Linked DNA regions of Homo sapiens: regions 1, 3, 4, 5, 6 and 7 are each reported to be linked to region 2. The links are microRNA targets in miRTarBase. Many come from high-throughput screens and were not tested one by one. Region 2 holds a microRNA gene; each other region holds the end of a gene's coding sequence. Distances are between the middles of the regions.

Region 1 (4,067 bases), not on the chromosome of region 2:
CCTAGGGCTGGAGTTGAGATAGAATTATTTGAGTCAGTGTGTGATTATAAGTAGTTGAAGACAGAGGTTTCCATACAGATGAGGAGATGATTAAGTGTCTAAGCCTGAAAGTTTTAGTTTACCGAACATAAAGATGAAAATTTCCACTTGTGAAGACTCAAATCATTCATTGGAGTTCTTTATTAACCATCATAGCTAAGAATGCAGACCCAGAATTTATGGAAAGGAACAGACAACAGAAGAGAAAGTTCAAAAACCAAAGGGAAAAATAAAACATGTCTGAGAAGGGATTTGAGGTGTCCAGAGTAATTCTGCTCAGATTTTCTAGCTAATCTCTGCAATAGGGATTGCATCGTCTCCTTGGTTCATATCTCTTTATCCTCCAGGCTGAAGAACTATAAGCTGGATGCCTAGGTCTCATATCTGTGGTGGACTCTTCTCCTTAAAAGTGCCTCTGTGTTTAATAAAATTGCCTTCTTTAATTGACAAAGTCCTCCTTTCTCTGCAGGAGCCCACTTTACTCACTTCACCTCTGATATCCAACACAGAACCCATCATTCCTGCCTATATGTGTATTACAATGTACACTCACAGTATAAAAATTATCACATATTATAACCAGCTGCATATTACGTTTCCCCCCAGTAGTCAGTAAGCCCTTCAGTCTCAGATATATCTTTATCTGAATAGGATCTGAGTTTACCTTTAGTATTCAGCATTCACAAAACGTTGAATTTTTCAACTTCTATAATTTTATCCCTTATGACTTCCCTTTTTCCAGGGAATGTCTCTACTTTTAAAATTTACTGCACCAAATGGGGAAAGTGGGACAGCGGGAGATGGAGAGCGAGCGAGCGAGAGAGCGAGTGTGAGAGAAAACACATTAAGGCTCTGTAACTGGACCTGGTTTAGAGTCCTGGCCTTTTTACTTATAGGGTCTCTGCCATATAAAAACTTCATAACCTTTCTAAACCTAACTTTTTTCACTCATGAACTGAGAGTGATCACTTCTTCATGCACGATAAATACATACGATAAGGCTGGGCATAGAAGTGTGCTCAATAAATGGTAGCTGTTACCATTATCTTTAAAACAATTTCAAGTGTATTATATTTACTAATGAAGCACAATAAAATTTTTGAAGATGCAGAAATTGATAAATAGTAGTGTACCAATAAATTTAATTTCAGTATTATCTTCCAGAAAGCAAATTCTAATAATACGAAAATATATCTAGTAAAATTATCATTATAATTTTGATAAGAAGAGTGATCATTTTACATCTTGTTAATGTGTAGGGGCCACTGGTAAGCTTACTAAAATGTATTTTACAAAATTATGTGATCTAAAGAAAGCACAACTGTTTCCAGTTTTAAGCCTGAATTAACAAACTTTAATGTAAAGCTTATTTTTAAAAAGTATACTACACAAAGTTGCCAATGTGATTTATCAAATTAAAAACAAACATAGCTTAATGTGGTTTACAGGTTATATTTATTATTTTCTATAGTATCTAAAAAGTAACATATATTGTTAAGACTTTGTTAAAAATAACTCTTTACACAGCTTTCGGAAGGTAACTGGCAAACAAGGTTTACAAGTAAAAGATAAACTTTTCAAACTAAAATCAGTTTGTTGTCTTTACGCAATTTACAGAAGCAAGTTATGATTCAATTTAAGTATCTGAAGCAGTTTCCACAATAAAGCATTCCCAAGAAATAGAAAACGGAGCTTAGATAAAGCACCAGCTGTCACATTGTCACCAAGTTAACACTGGTTCCTCACTGGTCTCCATAACATGATGGAGAGCAGGAGAAGAAAGGGAAGGAACACTTAGAGAGGAAAAAAAAAAAACCCTGAAATCTGAAATTACATTTACTTAGGGCATCCCCTAAAGGCATCTTGGTTAGGTTATTCAATTTCTGAGGGGCAGAAAAAGATTATAGTAGTTAAGGCTTGAGATCATGCATTCAGAATAAAATACAATCACTGATACATAAACTATATTGAATGTTATACAACATATTTAAAGGATGATATTTAAATCAATAATATATAAATTTTCTTTCTGAATCTTTTAGGACTTAGCAGGCACATTGAAATCAATCTTCATAAAGTTGGAATAACTCTCAGAATCTCAAACTACATAGAAGTAAATGACTATATTTGTATGAATAAGTCTAAGGACAACTATTTATGCCTATCTTTAAAAAACAATTTCAATAGTGAAAACTAATGTTTAGGATTTTACAGTTCTTTGAATATAAAACATTTTATAGAGTATGGATGTATATGATGAGATTAAAAAACTTGAAAACGTAAATATATAAGGGAAAACTAACTTGTACATACTGTTATAAAACAACAACAAATTTAAACTTTTATCTCCTAATTCATAGTTCTCATAGTTTGAGTGACCATTGTCTCTCTCTAAGTTATAAAGAATTATAACATACAGTAAAAAGTACTTTAAAGTTGCCACAACTTTCCAATTAAGGGCCAAGACACTATGAGAATCCCTATACATAATGGTAGTTCTCAACTCTTCTAATTCATGTTTAAACATACATTTGTCAGATCTTATATATTCAATGTTACATTAGAAATAACTGGTAAAAATACATCAATTTCATAAGGTAAAGCTTGAGTCTATTAACATGTTATTTATTACATCATTTTAGTAAATGTATACTTTTTAAAAAAATAGGTGTAAATGAGAAGAAAATGAAAAAAAAAAAAAAAAAAAAGGCTATACCTCTCCTTTATGCTTCTTGTTTTACGAATCTGTCCTGCTTAAGAGCCAGAGCTTAGGTGAAACTATCCAGAGATGAGAAACCAGGAGCTTGAGCACAATGAAATCCTATTCATTCCCAGTTCCAAATGAAAACAAGAACATACAAAAATAAACACAGAGCTTCAACCAATCTTTTTCAAATGCAGTTTTAATCAGCCCAAGAATCTCTGAGGTTGATCTCAAAGGCACTTTCTAAAGAACTGCTCTCTCCCTTCTTCCAATTGGCTTTTGTCTAGGCAAGTTTATGATTTAATGGCCATTAGCATTTCACCATCCCACATCAGGAAAGTATTTGCTTATTTGTAAGTCTTAATAGTGGTGACTTAAAGCCCATTAAATTATACATAAAATATAAAAGAAAGCCCCTGCTGCTGCTGATCTCTATCACCACTTCCCTTCATTCCCTAGAAGGCACACATCATATAAGCCATGTAGAGAAAACAAATATGAGATTGTCAAATGGCCACTTTAACCCACTTTAAACTCACTGCAGCAATATTAAGGATTCTCTTGATTTGTTAGATATAATGCTAAAAAGTGAATTTGGCATGAAGTCTTGTGAATACAAGCTTAATTACCATCGGTTGTAAAGAACTGATTATTATCTCTACTTTTCTTTTATTCCTGGCTTAGGCTTTCAACATTTTTCAGATATGTGAAGAAATATGAAAAGAGGTGGTAAGTGGTATTAGATCTGGCTTTGAATAGGTGACTTTTCCTTAGCTTTGTCAAAATAGGCACCTTCTTTAGTAGCATGAACATCTCTGTCACCATCTATCATATGAATATCTGATGTATTTTTGTCATTTCGCCTCAAGCGGTAATTTTTATAAGCACGTTGAATGATGGTTGCTGAAACTGCCTCTTGTTTTCGTTTCAAAGTAGTCGTAATTGGCTCACATGTGATCTTAAAAGGGTTGGCTAACAAAAACCCTGATTCTATTTCTGAAACAACTTTCTCCATCCTCACATCTTGACCCATAACTCTCTTTGTAAAAGCAAGTAAGATATCGAGGCAATGAATTCTGTCCCCAACAGCCATGGGGAGGTCCAAAGCAATGAGCTGGCCCTTGTTTGGTTTTGCCATGAAAAGAGGAGGATCAAGAGCAGCTGCAAAATCTGAAAGCTTGCTAGAGTCTATGTACTGGGTCCTATCAGGATCAAACCTTTTCCATACCTGAAAGAATTTCCTAAAATCATCTTCACTCAAGGTCTTGTTTTTCTTCTTAGAAGCAATATTTAAAAACTCCATGACAACAACAATGTACATATT
Region 2 (4,067 bases):
CAGGGAGACAGGCATTGTCCCCGGATGGAAGAGAGTGGCCTCCCAGGTCTCTCCTCCCTCGCTCACTCCCCAGGGCCTTTCCCGCTGCAGGTGGCAGTCCCCAACCTCTCCCTCTCCCTTTAGAGCCTGCTCAACAAAGCCATTGAGGCTGCCCTGGCTGCCCGGAAAGAGTGGGACCTGAAGCCTATTGCAGACCGGGCCCAGATCTTCCTGAAGGCGGCAGACATGCTGAGTGGGCCGCGCAGGGCTGAGATCCTCGCCAAGACCATGGTGGGACAGGTGAGGTGCTGGTGGGCCCGGGTGGGTGGGGCGGGGTGGGGTGGGAGTCAGGTGTGCCCTACCCATGGCAGCAGACATCAGCTGAAGCGCTTCTGGGTCCTAAGCCCTTTTGGGGACCCAGAGATGTCCTCAAGGGACAAGGCCTAGGAGCTGGGATGGATGATCACAGATTATTAGGCGAGACAGATTGTGCAGAGCCCATGTGTCCTGCCTCGGAAATGTCCCCTCTCCTCCATCCCTCTGTCCTCGCTCCTAGGCCTTTGTCATGCTTTGCCTGGACTGGTGGTGGCCTGCACTGTCTCCCTGCCTCCTAGCTTGGTCAGCCCCTCGCCGCCCTCAGAGTGGTCTTTCCAACACCTCCAGGATGTTACTCCTGGCTTATGACCCACCCAGACCTCTCCACCACTGAGAGGCAAGTCCCAAGACCTGAGCCCCATACCCAGGGCCCTTCTGCCCACCTCTGTCCAGCTCGCCCACTGCTCTGCATTTCCCTGCCAAGCTGTCCTGCCCATAGTGTAGCCATTTGGCACTTAGCAGGACTCCCCGGCCATGGCAGGCATCCTCTCTGCCTCTGCCCACGTGTCCTCCTGCCTGGAATGCCTGCTGTCTCTTCCGTGCTCAGTGAACTCTTACCTCCTGGTCCAGCCCAGATGTCACCCCCTCCGTGAGACTTCCTGAGCCTTCTCCAGCCGAAAGGACTATTCCTGCCTCTGTTTCCCCAGAGCATGTTGTTCCTGCATCAGTTACAGCTCAGATTGCACTGGAGTGTATTGAGTTCCTAGGTACTGCCCCTTTACAAGCTTTTTGGACATAGTAAACATGTCTTGACATTCTCGGTCTTTTTCTGGGCTTTGCATGATACCTTTCAGGAGGCATAGCAAGCCCCTGATCAATGGTTTTCTCTGCACAGAGCTGGCATGACAGCTCCTCACCCTGCTAAATGCAAGTTGAGTGAGGAGTGGCTCTAGCAGGCAGAGTGTGCGGGGGACAGGAGTCGAGGGAGAAAGGGTTATTTCACCACCTCCAGGACCTGAGCCCTACGCTGCCAACTAACCTGGGTTCCTGAAGGGTAAATTGCAGGAGCCAGAACCCAGGCTGCTTTCTGGATCAGGCATTTGCCACTGCCTGCTCCTCGGTCCCCATGGTGAGCGCCCCCTCTGCTGCACAGAGCTGGTATGACAGCCCCTCAGCCTGCTAAATGCCTTCTTAGATTGGCTCAGCAGCCCTCTGGGGTGGGCGTCAGCTCTGCGTGTTCCTGGTGAGCCGCACGTTGCTGGGAAGACAGTCTAGGATCAGTTTAGGCTTTCTCTGTATTTGGCCTAAGACTCAGGAACTTCTAGGAAGCAAGGTACACATCTTAGCTCAGCTTCATGGGCTGTGTGTCTCTAATAGGTCGTGCACCTGCCAGTGACCTTGGGTGCCAAGAGGAGGCCACGTCAATCTGGAAAAGCCCCGTTCTTGGCTGTCCACAGTTCTTTTCCCTGCAGCTCACATTTGCTGTTATTAAGAATTGACGGTTTAAGGGAATCACAGTCACTCGCCTCTTGGTTTTTGGCCCAAACTAACCAGCAAGGCCGAACATCATTCCTGGGGAAGGAGCCATCCACCTCCCACACACCGAGTCTCTCTCCTGGTTTTCCAGTGACCAATCTCCAGCTCATGCTAATCTGCCCTTCTGTCTGGAAGGCTCTGATCCTGAATTTAGTCTGAGGCTTGACCATAGATCCTTTGCCATGCACCACCATTCAGAGTTGCTATGAAATGAAGACAGTGCATGGCAAGTACCTGGCCTGCTACAGAGGATCACTAAAATTCTTCTGATCCCCGTCCAGCCCAGAGGGCCGGCTACAGGAGGTGCTAGCTCAGGGGCTTGAGAATCCTTTCCCCCTCAGCCCCTGGGATGGGACCTGGTGAGCCCTCCAAATGTTTCCTGGTCCCTCCTGGGGCCCGGCTCAGTGCTCGCTTTGGGCACAGCGTCAGATGTGAGAAGAGGATGGACAGGAGGCTGTTGGCTGCTCCTGACCCCCGGCCCTCTGCCTTGCAGGGTAAGACCGTGATCCAAGCGGAGATTGACGCTGCAGCGGAACTCATCGACTTCTTCCGGTTCAATGCCAAGTATGCGGTGGAGCTGGAGGGGCAGCAGCCCATCAGCGTGCCCCCGAGCACCAACAGCACGGTGTACCGGGGTCTGGAGGTACCTGCAGGAGGCAGTGGGCGAGCAGGCGGGGCAGCCCAATGCCATGGGCCTGATCTCACCGCTGCCTCCTTCCCCAGGGCTTCGTGGCGGCCATCTCGCCCTTTAACTTCACTGCAATCGGCGGCAACCTGGCGGGGGCACCGGCCCTGATGGTGAGATGTGGGCACAGGTGGGACAGCGGCAGCTGGTTGTCCTCCTGGTCCCAACAGACAGACAGAGGCCACCCTGAGCCCCTTGGGTCTCAGCCTAGTCATGGGGAGAGGCACAGAAGGTGGAGGCAGCTTGGGGCTGTGGGTAGGCTTTGGGACCAGAGACCCAGTTTGAATCCCAGCGTCGTGCCTCTCTGCCTGGGAGACCCTGGCAATCCCTGAACTTCTCTGAGGCACAGTTTCCTCATCTGCAAAGTGGAAATAATAGGAAAGCCTCCATGACTGGGTTGTGAGGCTCAAATGAGACACATCCAGCAGCAGGCAGGGCTGGCCCGGAGCTGGCTGAGTGTTGGTGGCTCTGTTGATGATCATTACCGCTGACCTTCAGTGCTCACCACGTGCCTGCTGCTGTCAAGCACGGCATGGAGATGATCTCATTTCATCCTCTCAGCAGCTTCGAGAGGGAGTTGTGACTCTGCCTCTTTGCCAGATGACAAAACTGAGACACACAGCCGTGACTTACTTGGCAAGACTGAGTGACTAGTAAATAAATGATGGAGCAGAGAAAGATTTGGATGTAGTCTCTCTCGGGGTTGATGGTATTCAAGTCACTCCTCTGCCATTATCGGAGTGAGGTTGGCTATTACTGGATGAAGTCCCAGGCCTGTGGGGGAGGTGCAGCCCAGCTCCCAGACAGCCTGGGTGGGAGAGGTCCACATAGTTGTCGGGAACCCCGAGCCCCAGACAGGGGCACTGGATGCTGATGCCGGAGTGTGTACTAGGGACATGGATGGGGACGTCCTCATGCATCTGTGCACAGACAAACACGGTGCATGGCCAGGCGCCCACGTGCCTGGCTGCTGCACATGCCTGACCCAGGACATGTGCTGAGAGAGCCCGTGTGTACTTGCCCCGCCGCGCCCGGTGAGCACTCAGTGACTCTAGCAGTAAGAACAGACCTGCCTAGGTGATGGCAGGACCGGTTGGTGCAGGCTTCTGGGGAAAGGGAGCCTTGGCCAGAGCGTGGGGCAGATTGGGCTGTGCCGTGGCCTCCTTGGCAGGGACTTTTGGAGATAGGGCCAGACGCCTTGGAGGAGTGGGGTCGGGTAGGGGATGTCCTGGTTGGCACAGAGTCTGGTGGTTCCAGGTGAGGGACAACCATGCTGTAGGGTAGGGTGGGGTGGGGGTTGGGGGCTGGTGGCGCCATCCTCATGCATCACTGAAACACCTCCCGGGCAGGGCAACGTGGTCCTATGGAAGCCCAGTGACACTGCCATGCTGGCCAGCTATGCTGTCTACCGCATCCTTCGGGAGGCTGGCCTGCCCCCCAACATCATCCAGTTTGTGCCAGCTGATGGGCCCCTATTTGGGGACACTGTCACCAGCTCAGAGCACCTCTGTGGCATCAACTTCACAGGCAGTGTGCCGTAAGTCCCTGGGGA
Region 3 (4,066 bases), not on the chromosome of region 2:
TAGGCAAATTGCCTAGGTGCTCTGTTTATCAGTTTTCTCCGCTATAAGACAAGGCATTGGCTTAAATGATCCCTAAGATCTCAGCAAGCTCTCAACTCCTGTAAATCTATGTTTTCTTCCCAATAATGTTAACATGTAGATTTTCCCCTTTTCATATTCTCTAAATCTTCTTTAATGTGAATGTTTTTCCTTTTTAATATAAACATTTAAAAGGAAAAGCCAAGACGAAATTGAAACATTTAATCCTCTCTCAAGTCCTGGATTGTGTGCAAAAAAAGTACTTCTATACTAAAAAGCTTAATTACCTCTTTTGTGATATATTCTAAATAATGAAAAAAATGCATGGCACAGTTTTGAACCTAATTCTGTGTTTTGCATTTTTAGTTGCAGTACCTACCCCAGCTAACTGGCAGCAGCATCCTTCCAGCTTTGGATAATAAGAAGTACTACTGTGATACCAAGAAACTTAACTACCGTTTTCCAAACATTTAAAGGAGCTAGGAGACATGATTTTAAAAAAGGAATCAATAGATGCTTTGAAGAAAATAAAACTTATACAGTTGATTGAAAACAATTACAATGTTGAAAACACACCAGGAGAAAACATAAGCAAGAAACTGGGAGGCCAACTGGCAAGATATGAAGGGAAATTCCAGATCCAGTCTTCCATGCTTGATGATGGTGTCCAGAAAAGAAAAAACCTGTTTGGAGTTGCACTTGTATTTCAGTTTATGTAAGTAGCCGAACTTATGGACAGAATATGAACTGTCCCATACCTCTGGCAAAACTAGATGATATCAAAAAGATTTATGCTTCAGTTGTACCACATGCCACACAAGAAAAATGAACCACAAAATGCCCATATATATTTCCTCGGATCTCTGTTGCCTGAGTCCTATCTCCTGCCTCTCAGATTGTTTCAGCATCATATTTAAGATAGTTCTATTTCTTGAAATCAAAATGTTTAAAATCCCATTTCCTGCTTGCTCTATTTCTTGATTTTTATATTTTAAAACATTTTGAGGGTAACACTTAGGTTCAAAATATTTAAAAGCATATGAATTATCACAAAAGCTTGGTAATTTATAATTTAATTATATGTTTCCACATTTCATCCTTACTTTATCAGTAAAGGATACACCTTAGTCACTTTTGCAGGCAACGTGGATTTACTGTAATCTGTCTACATTTATTCACCCAATTCCCCTTGTAAACAATGGCATGAAGCTCGGCAGCTGATTAAGGCAGTCAAAGGGTAGAGCAAGACCTACAGGCTTTGCAGGAACTGAACCTATCAGCCTGAAAATAATTAGTATTTCATTCTCTCTGGCACAGCCTTTGACCTGGTACATCTATAGGCAAACCTGTAATTCAGTGATCTGGGTTTCAGAAGAAATTACTTGTGAGCTTTTACTTGAGTCATGAAAGACATTATGTTGTAAACTGATGTTTTCCCTGAAACATCTTTTTGCACTATGTTTGTATGTGTATGTATGTGTATGTATATATATATATATATATATATATATGCTATTCTAACAACTAATATATTACACTAAGTAGTCCAAAGTATTGAGGACTCATAGCTTTGCACAGTGAGACTTAAAATGATGACACACACACACATATATATATATGTGTTTTTTATATATATATATAAAACCTGCCACCTCAGCCTCCCAAGTAGCTGGGACTGCAGGCATGTGCCACTATACTGGCTAATTTTTTTGTATTTTTTGGTAGAGGCAGGGTTTTGCCATGTTCCCCAGGCTGGTCTTGAACTCCTGGGCTCACGTGATCTGAGCGCCTTGGCCTTCCAAAGTGCTGGCATTACAGGCATGAGCCACTGCGCCTGGCCAAAATGACATAATTAGCTTTGATTTGGTCTACTGCTCTTAATCAAAAAGCTTTTTCATCCTTGTCCCCTGGACACAAGGGCAATATGAAGCCTGACGTCTGTTTCTTACAGCTCAACACCATTTCTGGTTGATGTGCTGCCACTATTCCTAGCACTTCTCAGCCATGGTCTTCAAAGTTGTATTTCACTCTATTTTCAAAACATTTCTTCTGTACTCTCATTTTCTTCCTGTTAATTTTCTTCATGATGACATCTGACCCCATTTACTTAAGTAATCCACTGAGGTCTGGTGTCTACTCAATAATTTTGACTACCCTAGGCAGTTTAATGATATCCTAAGGCTTCCTAATGTATGTCTTTTCTTGCCTAGACCTGATATGGGTTAAATGCTAGTCCCTGAATTATTCAATTCCTGTTAGACGGCCTTGATTCAAATGACAAGGAAGAACATCCAGCTTCCGTGAATAGTTAAAAAAAAATTTTTTTTTCCTTAACCCAAGAAAATACACTTGACGGAGGCAGATTACTATAACAGCCTAATAATTCAGCCAATAGTTTTACCAAAAACTATTCAGAATAGAAAAGTAGCTCTAGACTAAATCGTGGTGAATCAGTTGTCTCACCATACAGTAATGAAACAAACCTGAGAAAAAAGGCTTATTTTTTTCTAATGAGTTCCGTTAAATTTATGCTTATGTTCAATTTAACCATATTTATAATGCTTTTATTCGGTATGAAATCTCCACTGTATCACATGAGACTCTTCCACATCCTTTTATTTACTATTTTCTGATTTTTAAAATGACAGTGGCAATTACCATTTATACTGTGTTATTTGTATAAGCTGTTAAACACAACATTGTTAAACACAACGAAAATTCATTTTTCTACCTGAAAGCTGTATCATAGAAAATTATTTTCAAGTTTATATTCAACAGCTTAATAATGTTCAAACCAGGCTGGGCGCGGTGGCTCCCAGCACTTTGGGAGGCCGAGGCGGGTGGATCCTGAGGTTAGGAGTTCAAGACCAGTCTGGCCAAGATGGTGAAACCCTGTCTCTACTAAAAGTACAAAAATTAGCTGGGCGTGGTGGTGGGCGCCTGTAATCCCAGCTACCTGGGACGCTGCGACAGAGAACTGCTTGAACCCGGGAGGCAGAGGTTGCAGTGAACTGAGATCACACCACTGCACTCCAACCTGGGCAACAGAGTGAGAGTCTGTCTCAAAAAAAAAAAAAAAAAAAAAAAAGTTCAAATCAAACACACAGAAATCTATAAACAAACTGGCATATAAGAGTAATAGAATCAGGGCCATTTCTCACAGGTAACAATGAAGACCTGTTTTATCTATTTTTCACTTTTTTTTTTTTTTTTGAGACAGGGTCTTAATCTGTTGCCCAGGCTGGAGTGCAGTGGTGCCAACATGGCTCACTGCAGCCTCGACTTCCCGGGCTCAACTGATCCTCCTACCTCAGACTCCTGAGTAGTTGGGACTACAGGCATGTGCCACTACACCCAGCTATTTTTTATTTTTTAATTTTTTGGTAGAGACAGGGTTTTGCCATGTTGCCCAGGCTCGTCCTGAACTCCTGGGCTCAAATGATCTGCCTGCCTTGGCCTTCAAAAGTGCTGGGATTACAGGCCAGCCCTTTTTTTTAAGAGACAGGGTCTCCCCCTTTCACCCAGGCTACCAGGCTGGTGTGCAGTGGCCGTGATCATAGCTTACTGCAGCCTCAAACTCCTGAGCTCAAGCAATCCTACCACCTCAACCTCCCAAGTATCTGAGATTACAGGTATGCACCACCATGCCTGCCTAATTTTTAAAATTTTTTTAGAGATGGGGTCTCACTGTGTTGCCCAAATTGGTCTCAAACTCCTGGTCTCAAGTGATCCTCCCACCTCAGCCTCCCAAAGCACTGGGATTACAGGCACGAGCCACGGCACCCAGCCTAAAGCAATGTTAGGTTTCAAGAAAAACCTAAGCATAGCCCACTAGTTTTTACTGTTTCCTTTATTATATTGCAATCTGCAAAACTATTTGTATTCAGCCAAGTATCTATGTCCAGTTTTAATAAAATAGTAGCCTAAGCTTACAAAATAGACAAATTAAGCAGCAACTGTTGATTCTGAGTAAGTCTGTATGCTATCAAGAACACAAGAATGCAGGATCATGGGAAATGCACGCAAATCCTGTTGAAGCAATGCATGC
Region 4 (4,067 bases), not on the chromosome of region 2:
CTTCTAGATCTTTCTTTGTAGCCATAGTCATGTGCTTTGAATGACCCTGGGAGGTAGCATCTGGACGTAGTGGGAAGGACTTGTAGCCCCTGGGGGTGCCCATCTCGGAGCAGTCCAGCAGCCTGAGCCCCCTCTTCTCTCTTGCTCCTTCCCAGGGCGTCCCTGGTGCCCGTGTACTCCTTTGGGGAGAATGACATCTTTAGACTTAAGGCTTTTGCCACAGGCTCCTGGCAGCATTGGTGCCAGCTCACCTTCAAGAAGCTCATGGGCTTCTCTCCTTGCATCTTCTGGGGTCGCGGTCTCTTCTCAGCCACCTCCTGGGGCCTGCTGCCCTTTGCTGTGCCCATCACCACTGTGGGTGAGTGCCCACCTCCGGGGGGACGGCCACCAGCAGCTGCGTGGGCATCAGGGATCCCTCGCCCACCTGTCTCCCTCTCCCTGCAGTGGGCCGCCCCATCCCCGTCCCCCAGCGCCTCCACCCCACCGAGGAGGAAGTCAATCACTATCACGCCCTCTACATGACGGCCCTGGAGCAGCTCTTCGAGGAGCACAAGGAAAGCTGTGGGGTCCCCGCTTCCACCTGCCTCACCTTCATCTAGGCCTGGCCGCGGCCTTTCGCTGAGCCCCTGAGCCCAAGGCACTGAGACCTCCACCCACTGTGGACTCCATGCCTCCAATAAAAGGTAGTTCTGGGCCCAGCGCAGTGCCTCATGCCTGTAATCCCAGCACTTTGGGAGGCCAAGGTGGGAGGATCGTTTGAGCCCAGGAGTTGAAGACCAGCCTGGGCAACACAGTGAGACTTCATTTCTACAAAAATTAAAAAATAATGTTGTTAATTAGCCGGGCATGGTGGCATGTGCCTGTAATCCCAGCTATTTGGGAGGCTGAGGCAGGAGACTTGCTTAAACCCAGGAGGCGGAGGTTGCAGTGAGCTGAGATCACACCACAGTACTCCAGCCTGGGCAACACAGCGAGACTCAATCTCAAAAAAAAAAAAAAAAAAAAAAAAAAGACTGTTAAAGCTGTAGTAGGCTGGGCGTGGTGGCTCATGCCCATAATCCCAACACTTTGGGAAGCCGAGGCAGGTGGATCAACTGAGGTCAGGAGTTCAAGACCAGCCTGGCCAAAATGGCAAAACCCCCTCTCTACTAAAACTACAAAAATTAGCCGGGCATGGTGGCTCATGCCTATAATCCCAGCTACTCCGGAGGCTGAGGCAGGAGAATCGCTTGAACCCAGGAGGCAGAGGTTGCAGTGAGCCGAGATCACACCACTGCACTCCAGTCTGGGCAACAGAGCGAGATTCCATCTCAAAAAAAAAAAAATGTTGTTAAAGCTATAATCGTTCTGGAAGTGAACATGGCCAGGCATGACCTGCCCCCATCCTGATGTGCTACAAAGCTGCTGCCTTAGATTGGGTATCAGGACCCTGAACTGTCCTCCCAGTGAGAGTTCAGTCTGTGGCATGACCTTGGACAAGCCTCTTCCTTTTGCCTGTTTACTTCTTTGTCTGTAAATAAAGGCATCTGCTTAGCAAAGAGCTGTTGGGCATTGGGATGGAGTTAGGAGGGAGGATGCGTGGAGAGGCAGGCTTTGAAGAGTGAGCAGGATTTAGATGGAGGTGAAGTTAGGGTAGATGGCGGAATTCCAAGAGCTAAAGGTAAGAGCAGTCAAGGGCACTTAACAGGACGGGGAAATGGTACCATCCCCAGTGAAGGAAAAATAGAGTTAAGAACACAGCTGAGGCTGGGCGCGGTGGCTCACGCCTGTAATCCCAGCACTTTGGGAGGCTGAGGCGGGCGGATCACGAGGTCAGGAGATCGAGACCATCCTGGCTAACAAGGTGAAACCCCGTCTCTACTAAAAATACAAAAACTTAACCAGGCATGGTGGCGGGCGCCTGTAGTCCCAGCTACTGAGAGGTTGAGGCAGGAGAATGGCGTGAACCCGTGAGGCGGAGCTTGCAGTGAACCGAGATTGTGCCACTGCACTCCAACATGGGAGACAGAGCCAGACTCCGTCTCAAAAAAAAAAAAAAAAAAAAAAGCTTATGTCCTATGGCCGGCTGCTGTGGCTCACACCTATAATCCCAGCACTTTGGGAGGCTGAGGCAGGTGGATCACGAGGTCAAGAGATCAAGACCATCATGGCCAACATGGTGAAACCCCGTCTCTACTAAAAATACAAAAATTAGCTGGGCGTGGTGGTGCTCTCCTGTAGACCCAGCTACTCAGGAGGCTGAGGCAGGAGAATTGCTTGAACACGGGAGGCGGAGGTTGTGTTGAGCCAAGATCGCACCATTGCACTCCAGCCTGGGCAACAAGAGTGAAACTCCGGCTAAAAAGAAAAAAAAATGAAAAAAATGAAAAAAAAAATTCTAGAAATTAGCCAGGTGTGGTGGCTTATGATTGTCATCCCAGCTACTTGGGAGGTAGAGGTGGGAGACTCTCTTAAGCCTAGGAGGTCAAGGGTGCAGTGAGCCGAGATCGTGCCACGGCACTCCAGCCTGGGTAACGAAGCGAGACCCGTCTCAAACAGACAAACAAAAAGAGCCCTGGGGTGGTCACAGCATCCTCTGACTTTGGTCAATCCTATTTGCTGGCTGGCTTTGTGTATCCAGGACTTCATCAAGAATAACTCATTGAAATGTAATTGGAATGCCCTATATTTGCTTCTACCGTCCTATAAAATTTATTTGTGGGAAGAATTTTCCCTTTATTGCATGAAAATATGGGCAGTCCCATGACTTCCCTGGGTCATTCTCAGATAATAAGTTCTACATTCATTTTAAGTTGGAGCATAGAAATGTTTCGTTCAGGCCAGGCATGGTGGCTCATGCCTGTAAGCCCAGCACTTTAGGAGGCCGAGGCAGGAGGATCACCTAAGACCAGGAGTTCAAGACCAGCCTGGCCAACATAGTGAACCCCGTCTCTACCAAAAATACAAAAATTAGCTGGGCGTAGTGGCAGGTGTCTGTAATCCCAACTACTCCAGAGATTGAGGCAGGAGAATCGCTTGAACCCGGAGGCGGAGGTTGCAGTGAGCCGAGATTGCACCGCTGCACTCCAGCCTGGGCGACAGAGTAAGACTGTGTCAAAAAATAAAAACAAATAAAAATAAAAATAAATCAGCTCTGGGTTTGAGCAACCTCGGCCTGGATACCCTTGGAGTTCAGGCAGGCCTCGACGTGGCCACTTGTCCTTCCCCCTTTCCTGCCGTGGGAGCATCCAACCAGTCACAATCCGGCCAATAGATTTCTCCAGTGGGCACATTTTCCAGACACTGGGGATGGGCGGGGTATGGTAGTATGCATCTGTCATCCCAGAGTTTGAGAAGCCAAGGTGGGAGGATCGCTTGAGGCCAGGAGTTACAGGCTGAGCCAAGATTGCACCACAGCACCAGCCTGGGCAACAGAGCAAAACCCGTCTTTTATTTTATTTTATTTTATTTATTTATTTATGTTTTTTGAGATGGAGTCTCGCTCTGTCGCCCAGGCTGGAGTGCAGTGGCGCGATCTCCGCTGACTGCAAGCTCCGCCTCCCGGGTTCACGCCATTCTCCTGGCTCAGCCTCCCGAGTAGCTGGGACTACAGGCGTCTGCCACCACTCCTGGCTAATTTTTTGTATTTTTTTTTTAGTAGAGATGGGGTTTCACCGTGTTTGCCAGGATGGTCTCGATCTCCTGACCTCGTGATCCGCTCGCCTCGGCCTCCCAAAGTGCTGGGGTTACAGGCGTGAGCCACCAAGCCCGGCCCAAAATCCGTCTTTTGAAAAAGAGGAAGAAGGAACAGCATTCGCAGCTTTATGAGCTCAGCCTGCCGCTTTTCTTTCGGCGCCATTCTCTCCTGCCATCCTCCATGTGGCCACCAGAGGGCGGTCTCTACACAGAAGGCAAATCTGTCCCTCTCTTGCTTGAAGTCCTCGGGGGCTAGCCAGCCTCTGCCTACAGGCTGGGTCCAAGGTGCAGCCCCACCCAGGGCAGACGACCCAGAACTGCTTGTTCTTGCAAACCAGGCTGTGTTTCAGCCCTGGGCTTTACTCAGGCTGTCCCTTCCCACCTGAGGGACC
Region 5 (4,067 bases), 91 Mb from region 2:
ATCAACAATTACACAGACTTGGAGGCAGATCCTTCTCCCACTGAGCCTGGGGATGAGATCAGAGCTCTGGATGACACACTGATGGCAGTTTTCAGATGAAACCCTGAGCAGAGGACCCAGTTCAGCTGTGCCCAGACTCCTAATCCACAAAACTTTGAGACCATAAACATGTATTGTTTTAGCTGCTAAATTTGTGGGAATAGTGTAGAAGTCTTCTTTTGCCCCTGGAGTATGGCAAGGTTCAGGCTATTGTCCCATGACCACGAAAAATTAGGCACATGGACATGGAGAGTGAGTAGGGCAGAGTAGAATTTATTGGGAAAAAGGAAAGCTCTCAGCAAAGACAGGGGTCTTGAAAGCAGGTTGCCAGTAAGGCGTCTGTGTTCTGTGTCTTTTATGTGGCAGAAGCTGGGAAGTCTTCTGTGGGTTTTGCCCAGATGAGAGAAGTAACATTTTCTTCTTGGGGTACTACAGCTGTGCATGCCTAAGTTTTGCCAAAGGGACTCCATCTTGGTTATTACCCATGAGTGCCTAAGCAAAACCCATGGGGGTGCTAAAACCACAATGCTAATGTCATGTTTAATGACATTATAATGAGCTGGGTTAAATTAGGGACATTTAGGCTGATTTATTGTGCCCGCACCAAAGTTGGGATGGTCACTTCTGAGCAACATCCTAGCTTAAGGGTAACTTCTTCCGTTTTTCCTATTAACTGTAGAGGCAGTATAGGCACTGTCTTGCCGTTGTTCTTGTGAACATAGTTCCTTTCTATCCCTTCTCCTGAGACCTTCCCTCTCTATGTGCCTATCCATCCCTTAACTACCTCCTCTCTTAACAGTGTTACACAGCAATAAATAATGCATTCCCTTTTTGATTTCTGGTCATATCATCGATCTAGCCCCAGGGGCATCCTCAATTTCTCTGTCCTGCCTTAAATACACAAGGGTAGAGCATACCGCTCCCTCACACTATGGAAATTATATCAATAGTTATCAGACTGAAAAACTTCTGAGCTTTATACCTCTTCTGGCCAAAGGCTCCCCCATGCCCAAGATACTGGCCTGAACACCTAATCCCTGCTCACAGGGGGTGGCAAAACATGGCAGTTGAATTGTCTGCTTAGCACCTTCTGTCTGTACTATTCCTCCTGACATCACTGGGTATCCCTGCCATTTGGGCCCTCTGACCATCACTAGAGAGATCCTTGGCTTCTGGTCCATAGGGGATGGCAATCTGGCCCACAGGCCTATCTCTGAAGACTATTCAGACTCTGCTCTGTGAAAGGAGAGTGGTGCCAAGTCATCTCCACAGGAGTCAGTGTTTCTTAAGTTTGCTTTCTTTTCTAAAAACTAGTTTCTACTACACAAGCAATGCATGAGCACATTCTCTTAGTTAGAAAAGCAAGTCTTAGCCTTAACTTGGAAATGCCCTTTAACTTCCACCATGGAGTCTGGGCCTTTATCCCACTTGCCTGCAGTAAGACTGTTATGAGTTTGGTGTTTCCCTCCAGACTCTTCTCTATGCTTGGAGATCTTTTTTATTTTTTTAAGAGACAGGGTCTTGCTCAGTCACCCAGATTGGAGTGCAGTGGCAAGAACACAGCTCACTGCAGCTTCAAATTCCTGGGCTCAAGTGATCCTCCCACCTCAGCCTCCTGGGTAGCTGGGACTATGCATGAGCAATTGCGCACAGCTAATTAAAAAAAATTTTTGGGAGACAGGGGTCTCACTATGTTGCCCAGGCTGGTCTTAAACTCCTGGCCTCAACTGATCCTCTCACCTCAGCCTCTGAAGGTGTTGTTATTACAGCTGTGAGCAACCACACCTGGCCTGTTTTGGGGATCTTTGCATGTTAGTTCACACAGTTCAGTCTCATTCTTCCGTTGCCACATGGTACTCCATAGTATTGACAGGTATTTACACGGTTTCCACTTATTTGTCATTACAGACAATGCCACAGTGAACATCTTAGTATATGTCTCTTTGAATGTTTTTTTTTTTTTTTTTTTTTTTTTTTTGAGACAGAGTCTCGCCCTGTAGCCAGGCTGGAGTGCAGTGGCGTGATCTCGGCTCACTGCAACCTCTGCCTCCCAGGTTCAAGCAATTCTCCTGCCTCAGCCTCCTGAGTAGCTGGGACTATAGGCACATGCCACCATGCCCAGCTAATTTTTGTATTTTTAGTAGAAACGGGGTTTCATCATGTTGGCCAGGATGGTCTCGATCTCTTGACCTCGTGATCTGCCCACCTCAGCCTCCCAAAGTGCTGGGATTACAGGCGTGAGCCACCAAGCCCGGCCATGGATGAGTTTTTATAGCATGGAATTGCTGGGTCATAGGATATGATTTAAATTTTACAATTGTCCTCCAAAGTAGCTATACTAATTTACAACTTGACCAGCAGGAAATGCATATCACTTTCCTAAGCCTTGCCAACACTTTAGAAACTTTTTACTCATCGGATAGAAGGAAATATGGTTTCTCACTGTTGTAATTGATAATTCCTTACATCATAAACATCTTTTAGACATTTTTGGCTATATTTCTATTTTATAAATTGTTCATGGATTTTGTCCATTTTTAAAAACTCAGTTGTCTTAATGATTTATAGGTCTTTATATAATCTTTATACTAGTGCTTTTTGTCTCACTTGTCATTTATTTGTGGGTGCCTTAGGAAAAGTTGTAGAATTTGATCCTATTCAATTGGCAAATCTTTCCTTTGTGATTGTTATTATTTTAAAAAGTAAAAGAATAAAGAATGGCTACTCCACAGGCAGAGCAGCCTATGGTTTTTTTCTTTTTACGTCTTTAAAGAAACTTCTCCTACCCCGTGGTCACAAAAATTCTTACATTTTCATCAATATTTCAACAGCTTTGTGTTTAATGTTGGGCCTTAAATTCCAGATTAATTTTAGTGAATAGTGTCAAGTGGGGCTCTATTATTTTTAATGAGTAAGCAATTGTCCCAACTCTATTGGCTAGCCCACCAGTCTGAAATACTGCCTTTATCACACTAAACTCCCATGTGTACACAGGACGGTTTCCGAACTCCGGTTAAGTCCATCAGTACCACAGTTTTACTTGTGTTATCCTCACCCAGTCTTCACAGGGACTCCAGTCCCATTTAACACACCTGCTCTCTCCAACTGTGCAATCTCGTTTTTTCTAGTACCCACTCTCAGGGCTTGGGCATGAACCTACAGCCCTTGAACTCAGTTGGGGAGTAGGGAAATGCCAGTATCGCAGCGATTCAATTCATATCTTGATGATTCTCCACATATCCTTTTTCCCTTTTAGCCTTTATACCCAAGAGAAACTCAGCTGGACACCAGTAACATAAGTGCTATTCATTGAAAAGAGCAAAGCAAGAGCGCTGACCCCTTACGGACAGGATGAAACAAAACAAGCTCTGCAAGTCTGCCTCCTGCTCAGCATACAGGCTTGTTGCCCCACTGGGCCATCTTGTTGTTGATGGGCATCTTGCAGAACTGATCAGACTGTAAGTAGGCAGCGATTTTCTCCAAAGCCTGAAAGGAAAATACACCAAATCTTATAACGACCCCAACCCAGTCCAACAGATGCATACCAGAACAGCAACATTCACGTGTTGCCTGCGTCTACCTCCTCCATTTTTTTGTAGACAGTGCCTCCAAGGTATAGAAGTTAGGCTCTTCCCAAGACTTAAAGGTCTAGAGGTGTCCAACCATTGATCCCATTAGGCAAAAGCCGGGGAAGAATCCTCCACTATGGGATCCTGCAGGTCCCAGGGGAGCCTGTGAGTGTTTTTATAAGAGAAAGGTGCAGGAAACGTCACCTCAAAACGGCACATGAAAGCCTTCAGGTTTGGGAACTCATCCAGGCACTTGGGGTCAAATATACGGTTCTGATCCAAGATATCATAGGTGAGAAAATCCACAAAGGTGAGCTAGAAGAAAAGCAATAAGATGCTTAGGTCTGAGGAGTAGTAGCCTGCAGAGATAGAGAAGTATCCTCTTCTTTTCCCTTCTTCCTACCTTTTCCCCGGCAAACCATGAGAATTTCCCCAGAAACATGGAGAATTGTTTCAGTT
Region 6 (4,064 bases), not on the chromosome of region 2:
TTAAATCATTTTAACTCATTGTAAACATTTGGATAGTGGTTTTTAGAGAGCTCTCATAAATAATTTTTTTAAAAAAGCAATAGAAGTGGGCAGTGTTTGAACATAGGGTAATAATTCATACCAATTATATTGCTGAACATAAGTTTGAAGCCTCAATAATACATCCTAATTCATACCTTATGGTCTGATGGCAATTAAAATACCACCATTAAATATTTTGCAAACACACATAAAAGCTGAAATCTTGCTTATGTAGAATAATATTCAGTACTTTATTACCCAGAATATTACCTCTTTATTTTCTTGACAAAGTATAATCATTAGAGAGCCATTCTGAGAGTAACTTTAATCCACACGAAGGCTTGGACTTCGTATTATTGTGACTGTTAATACTGTTACTACTGTCATGGCTATTGATGCTTTTGAGCCTCTGCTGATTTTCATATCATGTAATTAGAACAGGCACAATCAGATGGTCCTAATGTAGTGATTAACACACACCTGCAATCTCTTTCCACAGCGGAGAATCCAAACAACTAAACACAAAAGGGCTTACTTACTGATTAAGGAGATTGTGTTTAAAGGGTCTGTCCACATTGATTTAGAAGATTGTGTTTAAACAATCTATCTACAAGCGGGTTGGCTTCTAGTGTCTGAAGGTCAACAAACCTTAAATGAGGCAGAGGGACTACTGAGAGGTTAAATATTTCATGTTCATGATGCTCATAGTACCCTAATAGGTGACTGTAATGTTTACCTAGTGATGACACAGGCCCCAGTGCTTCAACTTGGGTTAATAGGGAGTTGTGTGGTTTGGACACACATGTGGCTTGTGACTTCCTTACTTCACGTAAGGTCTCCCTACAATGGTCATGCATCATCATTTCAGGTGTCTTTTCATAAAGTAAGTTGGCAATTTCTGTATATCAAATTAAAATGGCATGGACATTGGAATCATAAAGATGAGAGTTTATATCTGATGGGCTGCTTAAAGCTATAAGCTTCAATTTCAGTATCAATACAAAAATGATAAAAATTACCTTGTAGGCATATGTCAGTGCTGTGGACTGAACTATGTCCTCCCAGAATTCCTATGCTGAAACGCTGATCCCCAGTATGATGAAATTTGGAGGCAGGGTCTTTGGGATATGATTAGGTCATGAGGGCAGAGGCCTCGTGATGGAATTCATGCCCTTATAAGAAGAGACACCGGAGAGGGTGCTTCCTCCCCTTCTTCTCTGAACATGCGAGGGTACGATGAGAAGATGGCCATCTGCAATCCAGGAAGCAGGCCCTCACCAGACACGGGATCTGTGGAAATTTTCATCTTGGACTTCCTAGGCTTCAGAACTGTGGGAATACATGCTTGTTGTTGAAGCCACCCTGCTGATGGCCATTTGTTACAGCAGCCCTAACCAAAATAGCCAGTTTAGGAATCACATGGGCTGAGCACCTCGCACAGTCAGCACAATGCTCAGTGAACATTTGAAGCAAGTTCTTGCAATGTGCAATGCTTAAACAGTTTATTTTTCACCCTGGCCTAAATATATTGTGGGGAGGAGAATGCAATTCAAAGTTTTAATTCAACTAAGATCATTAAGTGCCTATTATGTCCATAGCATGGCCCAAGAAGCCATGTATCAAGGGAAAGTTGGCTTCTTCCATTGCTTCTTCGCGGGGGTGGAAGTCAGAAGGGAAAAACATGAGAGAAATAGGCAGGGAATGGGACTCGGCTGTCGTCAGGCTGGAGGTCAGGCAGAACACTTCCTTGTGGTTGCTGGGTGGCTGCAGTAACATTGCAGTAACTACATATTGACCATGTGCTTTTATTTGCTGTGTTCTGATGCTTTGGCATCTGGGGCCCTGCTGACCTTGGAGGAATTGCCATTTCCAGGGTTAGCCACGTCCAAAAGATAATGATGACTCACCCCAGAACATGATTTTCAAAGACAAGTCAACCAATCTAGAGCCCACATCCCTAGTAAGTCTCCCCTGTGGGCTCTCATAGGGCTGTCATTCCAGGCCACTCTCCACCCACCCTAATCACCTCAAGGCTAGGTCCCAGACAGGTAGGGATGGCTCCGCTAACCCAGAACCCACCGATATTTCTCAAAGCAGTCAGTTCTATGCCTGCTGATCCTGCCTTGTCCTTTCCTAGTGTTGTGCAAACTAAAATAAAAGGCTCCCCCTATGCCCTCTGCTTCCTGGCTGACCTTGGTGTGGCCCTCTGATGGCACTATGTGTCCTCTTCTCTGAGCTTTCTGAGGATGACAAGCCGTCTTTTCAATGGGACTCCCTTCCAGACCTGTTGGTCTCACCATACTGGAATCATCATAAAGCCTGTATTGTAAAACATCATTGGTGTCTAAAGTTTGCACAATGCTATGGCCCCCACATTAAGGGAGTCTGGGTGAGATCACTTCATTGTCCCTACTTCTCTGACCAGAAAACACAAGAGTTCATGGGAGACAATAATAACAACAACAAAAACAATAGAAGAACACAGTTGTACCTCTTTATTGGCACAGTAACTTTTCAAAGGCTGGTATGAATAAAAAGTTCCAAGTAGCAAGACAAGGTGGTCTGGAGCCACTGCTCAGAACTTTCCGACAGCCGACGAAAGCACATCAATGAACAAGGCCTTGCATTATGGGAGGGTTGAGGATATACAGTGAGGGAATCATGCAGTGTAAGTCCCGGGGGACGAGCGCTGTGCGATGCAGCCCCTACTGCTCAAACCAGTACATGGCAGCGTGCTCATTTGTACTGTGTAGGCCTTTGAATGAATATGATCATTTTACACCACCGGCTATGGATTTGAAGCCATACGTGTTTAACCGTGTGCCATGTGATTTCCTGTGATCTATGCTGAAGTCGGGAGGTGAAATTTAACTAAAGGGTACACAATCCACTTATCCAGAAATACAGGGCATAGGAAAGAACAGCCTCCTCATCCATGAGTAACACCTAAAACATGGGGCTCAATTCATAGTTTTGCAAGGGGTGACACTGGCGAAGCTAAAACAACAATGTAGTTTCAAGATTTAGGTGCGTTAGGTGAAAAAAAAGGACTGTGGAGGAAAAAAATAATCTAGAAATGATTTTTTAAAATCTGTATTTTGAAGAAAGGAAGCACCACCAATTGCATAAATTTATAAAATTACAGTAATAAACATGTAAATAATTATCAGGTTTATAATACCAATAAAACACAAGTAGCTACAAAGAAATAAAATATATGTCCCGTATACTGTATTATAATAAAACCATTGGAAGTACAATAAACAGACTGTTGAACCGTAGAAAAACAACTGTACAGAGTGTGCATGGATTGCTCCTTTCCTCCGCTACTCTCTCGCTCTGGCCACGTCCACACTTTTCCCAGCCTCTCTCTTGCTACCTAGGGGTAGCACAGAGCCGTAAATGAGGAGCTTGAAAATCAGAGTGTATCACCACGAGATGGATAAGAAAGAACCCACACACACACACACAAACACACACACACACACACGGGATCTCATATATTTAGTGTCTGTGTCCTGTGCTTTTTTTGTCTAAATGCGTGGAGAGAAGCCCCAGCGCATGTCAGAAGGCAGCCTTCTGTTGTTGCAGCCCGGAATCAGTAGGCAGTTCTATTTTGTAAGTCTGCAGTTCAGGCCACATCAAATGGTGGTGTCCCAGAGCTCAGACGGCAGCCTGTTGCAGGAGGCCCCTTCCGGCTTCTTCAGAAGGCTGGGCTTCTTGCAAGGTGGTGGGGGAGGCACCCTGGGCTCAGCGTGGTGCAGGATCTGCTGCCAGTCTTGTCCTTCCTCACAGAGCTTTCTCCTCCAGTCCAAGAGTTCCTGCAGGGCCACACTTTCATTCTCTGAGAGCCTCAGCTGATGGATTACCTGTGGGAGGAAGAGGGGCAGAAAAAACAGGTAGCACCAAATATTGTGAATGAGTATGAAGTGTGATAGCAACACCTGGATACAAAGGGGCAGGACTGGTGCTGAAAGAGGCAGCCTCTTTCCTCAATCTCCATGCACTGCTGCCTCTGGAAACAGCACTGGGCTAGAGAGGCT
Region 7 (4,067 bases), not on the chromosome of region 2:
TTTTAAGCAGGGGAGGTTTTAGTTTGTTTTAGCTGCGACCATGAATTTCTGGAGCTAGTGAAGTTAAAGATTATGCTTTAGGAAGGATGGTACATAAAAAAAGATTAATGGCATTCATTTGGAATTATAGTTAATGGTATCCATTATGGGGGGTACTTTTTAAAAAATACTCTGGGTAAGCTGTTAATTTAAAAAAATATTGATTTTGTAACTTGTTTATTTTTTAAAAAATGCAAAATATTCTGGAATGCTATTACATCAAGAACTTAGAGCTTTAAATTATATATAAATCCTGTTCATATGTATTTGTTTATGTGTGTGCCTCCTAAGTATAGTACCAAGTTTCATAAACTAGTATTTCTGTACTCTTATTTTTCTATCTCAGCTTTCCCAAACTCAGAAGCAAACCCTCTAAATGCCTATTATTTGAAATGTCTTGAAAACCTCGTGCAGCTCCTTAATTCTTCCTGAGTGCCATGGGATGCTACACCTTGAAGCTGACAGTCATCAACAGGGGAGCTAAAGTTGAAGCCAGCTGTGTGTAGCAGCTGTTACCTGAAGACGTGCTACCTCTCTACAAAGTGTTGATCCCCTTCTTTCCCATGAGAGAGAGAACTGGTGATACTCCAACACCGTCCAGTTGTGGCAGCTCTCCAGAAGTAATAGCAGCTGACAACTTTCTGTGCCTTTTCCTTTCTGTTGAAAAGGCATAGAAAGTTCTGGGAACATAAACATTTTTACCCTTTTCTATGCCATTTATTTTGTAAAAATCCTATTTAACAGTTATTTAATAAAACAATATTTTTAGAAACTAAAAATTGACTAATAATTGCTGCTTACAGACTTTTATCAGTCTCATGAATATTAATTTTAGGAGTTGAAATAAGACACTGTGTCCTGGTTGTTTCTCTCTTTTTTTAAATTTTAACTGATGTAAAATTTGGCTCTGTCAGTGCAAATCCTTATTTTCAAAACTTTCTGTTATCCAGAGCATCCACACTGGAAAAGGGCTATGTAGAAGTAAGTGTGCATTATTTGTAAAGGGCTGTGTGGAAGTAAATGTACATGATTTGTAAGTAGCTTTCTTAGGCAAGTTTTAGTGATGTTATCTTCTTCCTAGATGACTCTTAAATCATTACATGTATAATCTTCACCGTTGTCTTCTGCAAGGCTGTGTAATAAAGAAGAAAGAAATAGAGTTGGGGCTGTATAAGCCTGGGTTCAAATTTAGCTCAGCCCAAAACATCATGAAGAATAGAGTAAGACTGAAAAATGCAGAAGATGGCCGGGCTTGGTGGCTCATGCTTATACTTTCAGCTCTTTGGGAGACCGAGGTAGGTGGATCACTTGAGGCCAGGAGTTTGAGACCAGCTTGGGCAACTTGGTGAAATCCCATCTCTCCTAAAAATACAAAAATTAGCCATTCCTGGTCTTGAGCGTCTATAATCTCAGCTACTCCAGTGGCTGAGGCACGAGAATCTCTTCAACCTGGGAGGCAGGGAGGTTGCAGTGAGCTGAGATCATGCCACTGCATTCCAGCGTGGGTGACAAAGCAAGACTCTGTCTCAAAAAAAAAAAAAAAAAAAAAAAATGCAGGAGGAACAAGCTCTATACTCTATTACATAATCTTACTTAACCTGTAGTTTTGAATTCCGCACTTAAACCAAAATCAAGTACTAATCACTTTCAGCAACTTTCCCAACACTTTTGAAAGTGAGAAAATTGTGTGTAAGAGAAATAAAAGGTGAAGTATTAATATATATATGTTTGTATATACATATATGTCATATACATGTATACATATATATTCATTTAGGATAATGTTTTCAGAAAAACTGAAAGAAAAATATCATTTTAAGTGCTGTTAAATTGCTAACAGCAATAAAATAAGCAATGATGTTATTTAAGCTGGAAGTATGACAAAATTTATGTTAAATACAGAAATAGTAACAGTTAAGTTTGTAATGTCTGAGAATTAATTGATTCGAGATCTGAAAAATAAATCTAGGAAGCTCAGAAGTTTCTGAGCTGCCCAAGTTAATGTGTAGCGGAAAACTCGTCAATTCTGAGAGCAGGAATCTTGGGAATTATTTTTCCCTTTTCTCCCGATATCTTATATTTTTTGCCATTTTTCTGGAATTCTCTAATCAGCCCTCACTGATAAATAAATGAAATGAATTTCTAACTCCCTTCATAACTCCTTTATAACTCCTCCTTCTATGTCCCAGCTATTATTCTCGGAACTTTTATCATTTAATCTATCTTTTTCTAAAATACTACTAATGTCTTTGTGTTCCAGGTGAATAAGCGGAGGCGCAGAGCGGTTAAGTAATGTGCTCATTGACTGTGGCTGGTTATCAGTGAAGTGGAGGTTGGAACCCAGGATAACTGCGAAGAAGTTTGCTTTTCTTTATAAACCACTTTTCTTTATAAACCATTTATTCTGCCCCTCTACCACCCCCACTGAAATATCTCTTTTTGTGTTTGAATCTTATAGATAAACACCATTTTTCAACAAAAATTTGTTCTCTTCAGGGAAATTATATTATGGTTCATTGATTGACTGATTCACATATCAGAGTAGGCACTACCTCATCTTCTTGGAACCAGGAAGAATTGTTGTAACTGATCATTTTCCCTAGCAGTTCACAGTAGTACCAGAGGGAGATTTGTAGCCTAGTAGTCAGAACCACCCAGAAATGTTACCTGCCAAAGCCCAGGAGGACTGCAGACCTTGGAGAAAGGAGAGGGGCCATGGCTTTAGGGGAACTTGCGTTTGCCTCTCTTGGTGTCCAGGAATGTGAAGCTCGGGTGCACGCTGTGGTCCAGATCCTGGGGGACAGTCCTTGCAACTGGGTCTCCTGGGATTATGCACCGTCAGCCAGTGGGGAAGACGTCTCAGCAGGAGCCTTGAGGTGACTGGCCCACTGCTGTAGCAGCTGCCCTGCCTCTCCCTTGCGGACCAGCATCAGAATCCTCAGGTGTGTGCACTGAAATGCAGATTCCTGGGCTCAATGAGGCAGACTTGTGTCTAGGAGAATTTTTAGCAAGCTCTCCAGGTTCTGCTCACCACAGTTTGAGAACCACTGATTAATCCCCATGATTACAGAAAACTGCCTAGAACACGAAAATTATTTCATATCACTTAACTGCTGCCTGATGAAATCAGGACTTGAATCTGGGTCTCTTGAATGTGAACCAAGTATTTTTTCTTTCACACCTGCCCAAGTTTAAGCAAGGATCCAGGAAATAGGTGCAGGGGACTAGTTCATACTTCATGGTGTCCAATTTCTCCATATCCTAGCATTTTTGGTGGGCTGAGTTAGTGTATGTGCGCTATGGAAGCACAAAAAGGTAGTGCCACGTCACACATGAAGTGCAGACATTGATACTGAGGCTTCTGGGCTTAAGACTTGAGCAGTTTGAGGGAGGAGGCAGCCATTAGTTTTGAAAACAGGAAGCTAGTAGGAAAGTGGTGTTAGCAGACCTGGCTAGACCCTTTTGCCACTCTTCCTAAAAACACTTACAGAAATGAATAGCTGAATGTACCTCTTTTTTTGGTGTTCTATAAATAATGGAGCAAAAAAAAAAAAAAAACAAAACAGAATTTTGCCTATTTAACTCCAGATCACCAATTTTCCTTTGTAGTGTTAAATGGACTCTTCATCCGTGTCATTTTGCATCATCAGTCTTTGGGGCTGCACCTTGTGTATTCCCCATTTCTTGAGGTTGCCAGAGCCCCAGGTCTGCTTCTTGACCCGTGATGTTCCTCGGATTTGCCAGAGTGATGGGTAAGAGTAATGACTGGCATCCCCGCTTCTGCATTAAGATCTGCTTGCAGTTATCTCAGTGAATGAGAGAGCATAATAGAGCGGTTAAGAGTAGAGGGCTCTTGAGTCCTGTGGACCAGGAATTAACCCTGGCCTCACCACTGCAATTGTTGGAAACCTGGGACAGGCTCAAGCTAACTGGGGTTGAGGACACCTACCTTGTGCAGTTGGTGAGAGGACTGAGTGCTTAGCCTGGTACATAGTTATCCCTTAGATGTTATCAGTGATTTTTTATTC

The links. The annotated mature microRNA hsa-miR-4695-3p reads UGAUCUCACCGCUGCCUCCUUC and lies in region 2 at 2,527-2,548, shown strand. An mRNA with a match to its seed (bases 2 to 7 or 8) in the 3' UTR can be bound and repressed. Matches are read on the target gene's strand: a 7mer-m8 pairs with bases 2 to 8, a 7mer-A1 pairs with bases 2 to 7 and ends in A, and an 8mer does both.
Region 1: the mRNA of SCN7A is a reported target of hsa-miR-4695-3p. Seed matches in the 3' UTR shown: 7mer-A1 at 3,170-3,176 and 8mer at 2,969-2,976.
Region 3: the mRNA of CDKL1 is a reported target of hsa-miR-4695-3p. Seed matches in the 3' UTR shown: 8mer at 3,031-3,038.
Region 4: the mRNA of MOGAT3 is a reported target of hsa-miR-4695-3p. Seed matches in the 3' UTR shown: 8mer at 934-941 and 7mer-A1 at 1,262-1,268.
Region 5: miRTarBase lists GSTM3 as a target of hsa-miR-4695-3p. Seed matches in the 3' UTR shown: 7mer-A1 at 2,061-2,067.
Region 6: the mRNA of MYO16 is a reported target of hsa-miR-4695-3p. Seed matches in the 3' UTR shown: 7mer-m8 at 3,514-3,520.
Region 7: miRTarBase lists RTTN as a target of hsa-miR-4695-3p. Seed matches in the 3' UTR shown: 8mer at 1,516-1,523.

Annotation. Positions count from the first base shown.
Region 1 is chr2:166,402,098-166,406,164 of GRCh38, forward strand. SCN7A (sodium voltage-gated channel alpha subunit 7) reads right to left here. Exons shown (of 26, transcript NM_002976.4): 26 at 1,476-4,067. The coding sequence ends at 3,483. Among named protein-coding and RNA genes, the nearest start is that of SCN9A, 28 kb to the left of the region's middle.
Region 2 is chr1:18,881,685-18,885,751 of GRCh38, reverse strand. MIR4695 (microRNA 4695) reads left to right here and starts at 2,477; the gene lies at 2,477-2,550. ALDH4A1 (aldehyde dehydrogenase 4 family member A1) reads left to right here. Exons shown (of 15, transcript NM_003748.4): 5 at 124-279; 6 at 2,324-2,473; 7 at 2,554-2,628; 8 at 3,865-4,052. RefSeq lists a silencer at 1,392-1,623.
Region 3 is chr14:50,326,500-50,330,565 of GRCh38, reverse strand. CDKL1 (cyclin dependent kinase like 1) reads left to right here. Exons shown (of 10, transcript NM_004196.7): 10 at 385-4,066. The coding sequence ends at 492. DMAC2L (distal membrane arm assembly component 2 like) reads right to left here. Exons shown (of 6, transcript NM_001382507.1): 6 at 2,609-4,066. Among named protein-coding and RNA genes, the nearest start is that of DMAC2L, 16 kb to the right of the region's middle.
Region 4 is chr7:101,192,478-101,196,544 of GRCh38, reverse strand. MOGAT3 (monoacylglycerol O-acyltransferase 3) reads left to right here. Exons shown (of 7, transcript NM_178176.4): 6 at 156-358; 7 at 445-1,538. The coding sequence ends at 599. Among named protein-coding and RNA genes, the nearest start is that of MOGAT3, 6.5 kb to the left of the region's middle. RefSeq lists an enhancer at 374-874.
Region 5 is chr1:109,733,645-109,737,711 of GRCh38, forward strand. GSTM3 (glutathione S-transferase mu 3) reads right to left here. Exons shown (of 9, transcript NM_000849.5): 7 at 4,012-4,067; 8 at 3,813-3,923; 9 at 293-3,525. The coding sequence ends at 3,427. Among named protein-coding and RNA genes, the nearest start is that of GSTM3, 5.4 kb to the right of the region's middle.
Region 6 is chr13:109,206,435-109,210,498 of GRCh38, reverse strand. It overlaps MYO16 (myosin XVI), which reads right to left. Exons shown (of 35, transcript NM_001198950.3): 35 at 2,494-3,890. The coding sequence ends at 3,663. It overlaps LOC124903207 (a long non-coding RNA gene), which reads left to right and starts at 3,879. Exons shown (of 2, transcript XR_007063864.1): 1 at 3,879-4,064.
Region 7 is chr18:70,000,555-70,004,621 of GRCh38, reverse strand. It overlaps RTTN (rotatin), which reads left to right. Exons shown (of 49, transcript NM_173630.4): 49 at 386-1,591. The coding sequence ends at 471. Among named protein-coding and RNA genes, the nearest start is that of CD226, 55 kb to the right of the region's middle.